2 separate regions of the Homo sapiens genome follow, and region 2 is linked to region 1. A link means that fine-mapping ties the variant in region 1 to the expression of a gene that starts in the linked region. Tissue or cell type: whole blood. Region 1 holds a variant in brackets; the other region holds the start of a gene. All regions are shown on one strand. Distances are from middle to middle.

Region 1 (2,691 bases):
GTGAGCCACCGCGCCTGGCCACCACTACTAAATTCTAAGGGCTTTCCGTTTTCTCCAGGTTTTCCCCTCAGCTCCATCTTTCACAGTCTTTTCAAAGCATTCTATCTAAAATGCCATCTGATCACTTTCGCTCTTGAGGTTTGCAGTTTTCAGTGGTTCCCAGGTGTGTACACAGAATAGCAACATTCATGTTAACATGGCAAAGAAGGTCGTGTTAATGTGAATTGGGCCCTTACCTAGCTCAAATCTCTTTGCCTCATTCATTATCATGCTATCCTGTCATAGCAGACTTTTTGCCAGGATATTTCATACATTTTTTGGCTTCACTTTCACTGCTCACTTTTCCTGCTAAGGTCTTGTCCCCCGCCTGCTTGTATCATGAGAAATCATTTATCTTTATAAGTCATTTTATGGAATAGATCTTATAGTACTTCCAAATCAACTCAGATAGAAATTACCATTTTCCTCTCTTTGTTTCCTGGTCAGCCTATGCAGGCTTTTCACGCCTTAAAGTTTTTTGTTAGCGTCTTGAAAAAAAAAATTGAAAATAACAAAACAATTATTCTGCACTATGATACAAATGAATATTAAATGGATTTCATATATTTAGGAAGAACGCATAAATAATAAATGTTGGTTTTGTTTAGAATAATAATAAAAATTATATACTGAAATTCTAAAAGTTATTATGCTCCTTTGTTGATGACACTCATGCTTTCTCATAGTCAAATTAAGCAATATGGATGTAAATAGTTAATAAATTCCTATGACCAATTATAATGAGTTAACATTATAATCAAATCTGTTAAAATTAATATTTTTTTCCTATATTTATAATGTTTCTATGTGTGTTAAATTAGGTAAATACATTGTTTTAAATTAAAGTTAAACAATGTGATATTTACATACTCTATGCAAATAAGTTAGCTAAAAGAGAAATAATTATACACATGAATTGTGTCAATTTAACAACTTTTCCTCTGCATTTGCTACCATGAAACACAGAGTAAATTATTTGCTACAATATTCTAAAATCTTTCCAAAATTACTTTTCTTATATATTAAATAAACAATAATAATGAGTAATATATACATACCGCGTCATGGCCAAGACGATTGGTACACCAGAAAAACCAGAAAATATAAGTGTAGAAAAGATAAAAGCAATGAACAAAGGTAACTTATAGCACTTTGCATCACATTTCCCGGGTCTGGCATCAATAAAATCACCTTCTGCATCTGCAGTTATTAATCCTTCTTTAATGCAAGAACAATTGTAGTACATCTGTGAGTATTGAAGACAGGAAACAATCTTTCAGAAAAATAGTCATAAACAAAAGTTCTTATCATAAAATAAAAATTAAATCAATAACTGCAAGGAGACTCATTAGTTTTATTTCAAAATGTCTTTATATTAAGCCTGCTATGTATTATTTAGAAATGAAACATTAATGATAAATCCAAGGTATTTTACATGGCAAAAAAT[CTG/C]TGTGTGTGTGTGTGTGTGTGTAATTATAATTACTTAGGAAAAGCTCTGTTAATTTAAGAAATTTTCCTCAGAATATTTATATTCAAATTCATAAGAAATTGTTAAATATATAAATTGAGGGAAATTAAAAATAATGTAACAAAAAATGGAATTTTAGCTGAGATTTAAAATATGGATAGTTACCCAATTGTGAAAGGCTTTGAAACCATACTAAAAAGACTTTATTTTGTATGTAATAATGACAGGGCTGCTATCCATTTGGGACAACAGACACAATGCCTAGAATCTGTAACATATTCAGAACCACATAAAATATTTTAATTTTAAAGCATTTTAAAATCAAAGAAAAAAGTGTATAATAATAAATTATATAAAATGAATATATAATGATGAATCCAGCTTGGATTGTATTTTTTCACACCAATGTGGTGTAGATAAAATAATTTCTTTATCATTATTAATTTTTTAGTGAAGAAAAGAGAGCACGAAGGCAAAAGTGTCTAGAGTCAATGAGATTCATACTGCAGTCCTGAATGGAAAGCCAATGAGAATTTGGAGTTGTGGTTGTAGGGTGGATAATTTAAGGCAGATGAATTGGTGACATTTTCTAAGGAGAATTAAACAGAGTTTAAAGATGCAGAGACCAGTTCGCAATTTATTAATTTATTGGAAATATTCTAAACTAAAAAATAAGAAGAAAAGAACAATACAATAAATTTAGCAGAAATATTGAATTAGATTTTACTAGTGAAAAAATAAGAGAAATTAAACATAACTTGAATCTGGGTTATTCAGAAAATTATAATTCAGACAAATTTATGTCAGTTTGATAGGTGAAGTTGCTGAGAGGTTAATAAATATGTTAAATAATATAAATACCCAAATATCCAAATATCAATTCCTTCATTCCACCAAATATTTTTTTGAGTGCCTATATGCCAATCATCAATCTAGGTTTTGGGAAAACACAGTAAACAATAATATAGAAACCACCATTCCATGTAGAAAACTTTCTATTTGGGGAGACAGGACATTTTAAAAAAAAGGAACTTGAGTATTTAATGATAAGTGCTATGGAGAAAATAATAAAACAAGGAAAAGTACAGGGAATATTGGGGGGGTTATAGGACAATACTTAACATGATCAGAGAATGTTTTGATGATGAAGTGATATTTGAGCTGAGATCTGAAAAAGGTAAGTG
Region 2 (2,691 bases), 100 kb before region 1:
TCTACCTTCAGTAGAAGAGCTGCAGCGGACTTGCAATCAATAAATGGTTACTTAGCATCTAATGCGCAAAGCAAGGGGCCCTGGGTTCCTTGAAGAGGAAGAATAAGAACAAAAAGTATACTTAGGCTTTGACTTAGTTTTCTATTAACTTAAAAAATGAGCTGTTTCCAACCCTCTAAAATCTATATTTCTAAGGTTGTATTTCTTCCAATTAATCCTTGACTGATTATACAGAAAATATTCTCGGACTATGACTCAAGTGACCAAAAAATATCTACATTCCAATTCAGCTAAGCTTCGGCATGTCCTTCTTGACTCCTCTCCACCTCTTCTCCACCCTTCCTCAAAGTCAACTCAGGTTAACTTCCTATTTTCCTTCAACCTCTGTATTGAACACACCAGAAGCAGCTTTAACCTTCCCTGTGCCTTCTTTCAAGGGAGCTGTTCTCCCTCCAGGATATCACTCCTCCAAACTGAGCTTAGATTGCAAGCCCCTGAGGGTATAAATCTGAACTGAATCTGTAACTCCCAAGAGAACCTAAAAGAGATCCTAGAACAAAACAGATGCTGGATAACTAATGTAACACAATGAAGATTAAGGCTCAACAACGTCGGGAGCCTTTGCTAATTTACTCACTGGGCTCCTCTGGTGACCACATACTCTCAAACTAAATACACTCACAAAACATGAATGTCTGTATCTAATTTATACGATAGATTTTTCATAGCTTTCTTCCTTGTAAGGCATCCCACTCCCACCTGCAAACGTATTACTCCTTCCCCTGAGGCAATGAAACAAATGTAAAAGTAAAATACCTTTAAAGAGTGCCTAGGTAAATTTTTGTCTTTATAATGTAAAATAAACTCCCCAGGGTATACCTTTCCCAAAGGAAGGTTCTTGTAATCTTCCCTGTAAGTCTTGAATCCGCTAAACTGAGGTAAAACACAAAAGAGAAAAAGGCTTGTATTGCAAGTTTGAACTGTAGTGATAAAGGAGAAGCTGAACTTTGGAAGGCTGGCTGGGGGCCGGTAGGTTGACCTTGGTGAGAGCGCAAGCAAGTTCCAAACCCGGGGCCACCTTGCAGGGCGCGTCCACCGTCCCACGGACCCCGCGCACCTGCCCTCTCCCCCGGCTGGCTCGCCGTGCCCACCTCGCTCTCCACTGGCCCGAGCCTCAAGCGGGCGCTGGACTTTACCTTGCGTGACGGCCAAGAGGCAGTAGTGAAGCAGAAAGCCTCCAGGTGTGTTGCAGCGCTGGAGACATTGAGGATGGAAGTTCCTCCAGCCGTAAGACCCCTCCTCAAACTCGGACAGCGACAGTGACCGGAGCTTCTCTTCGGAGACATTGGGAGGGGCTGAAGGCAGAGATGGCTCTGGTGACTTCTGGGGCTCCTGGGGCTTCTGAAGCTCCTGTGGCTGAGAATTCTCTCTTTGGGGGTCAGAGGACAAGGCAGAGACTTCGATTTGGGAGGGCGACGCAGACAAGCGGCGCAGGATGTCTGGGCTGGAGGGGACAAAAGCCAAGTTCTCAATACCTTTGGCGCTCTTCATGTCTGGATGGGTTCTCCCGACTCCGGTGCTTCAGAGCAGCAGAGCCAGGTCCCTCTCTGGCTCCTCCCACAGGCAGGTGACAGCGCCCCCGTGCGGGAAGCTTCCCGCCTCCTGGCCCTCCAGCCTCCAGCGCACTCTCCGCCACCGCCTGAACCTTCCTACTCCAGCTCGCAGCTGTCTGGAGCGCAGAGCGCTGAGCGGGGGCGTTAGCGCCCCAGCCTGTGGCTTTGGCGCTCAGCTGTGCCTCACCCGTCGCCTCAAGGACCAACCGGAAGGCGCGGCGTGGGCGTGCCACCCGGCGGCGGCCGAGTAGAGGGGGCGAGAGTTCTCACCCCACAGCCTTCGACCGGAGTCCGCCTCCGCCCAAGCCCCTGCGGTTCTGACCTGAGCCTTCAGCCCGCAGCGCGCCTCCCTTGAGCCCAAGCACTGGGAACACACAGAGACTGTGGGAGTCTCTGGCCATAAGCTCCCCTTGGGTGCTGACATGAAACCTGTAAACAGTTGCATCAGGAGATTGTTCAGGAAACTATCTTGCGTTTTCTTCCTTTGCTGCTTACCAAAGCAGTCTAGGCTTGGACTCCAAGAATCAAGACGTCAGAGGTATACTTTGGTTCATGAGCATCTTGATAAGACTCTTGCCTGTCATCCTGTTACTGGTAGAAGGTGTCCAGGTTCTTGGCATCTTGAAGAAAGAATTGAAGAAAACGCACAAACAAAGCAAGGAAGGAATGAAGGGGTTTATTGAAAATGAAAGTACACTCCACAGTGTGGGAACGGGCGAGCATAGGGGCTCAAAGGCCCGGTTACAGAATTTTGGGGAGTTTAAATACCCCCTAGAGGATTCCATTGGTTACTTTGGGTATGCCCTATGTAAAGGGAGAAGATGAAGTAAAGTTACAAAGTCATTTATGGCCTACGCCCTATGGAGAGGATATTTCCTGTTACAGCTGAAGTGTGAATAGGCCTTATGTTTCCTGCCTCCAGACCCTATTTTCCTGCCTCAGTCCTCCTTAGAAAAAGAAATCCACCCCACCCCACCCCCATCACCACCAGGATGAACATCACAGCATAACCACTGCTTTGCTTTTCCTTCTCCGAAACTGAAGGACCAGAAATTGTCTCTCTGCTGTATATTGCATA

The links. PIP is the estimated chance that this variant, and not a neighbour inherited with it, causes the effect.
Region 2: SLCO4C1 starts here. The variant in region 1 is fine-mapped to the expression of SLCO4C1 in whole blood (INTERVAL, PIP 0.95).

The regions. Positions count from the first base shown.
Region 1 is chr5:102,398,458-102,401,148 of GRCh38, forward strand. SLCO6A1 (solute carrier organic anion transporter family member 6A1) reads right to left here. Exons shown (of 14, transcript NM_173488.5): 10 at 1,098-1,285. Among named protein-coding and RNA genes, the nearest start is that of SLCO6A1, 99 kb to the right of the region's middle. The variant CTG/C (reference allele first, on the strand shown) is at 1,487.
Region 2 is chr5:102,294,712-102,297,402 of GRCh38, forward strand. It overlaps SLCO4C1 (solute carrier organic anion transporter family member 4C1), which reads right to left and starts at 1,573. Exons shown (of 13, transcript NM_180991.5): 1 at 1,197-1,573. The coding sequence starts at 1,551. RefSeq lists an enhancer at 1,339-1,538.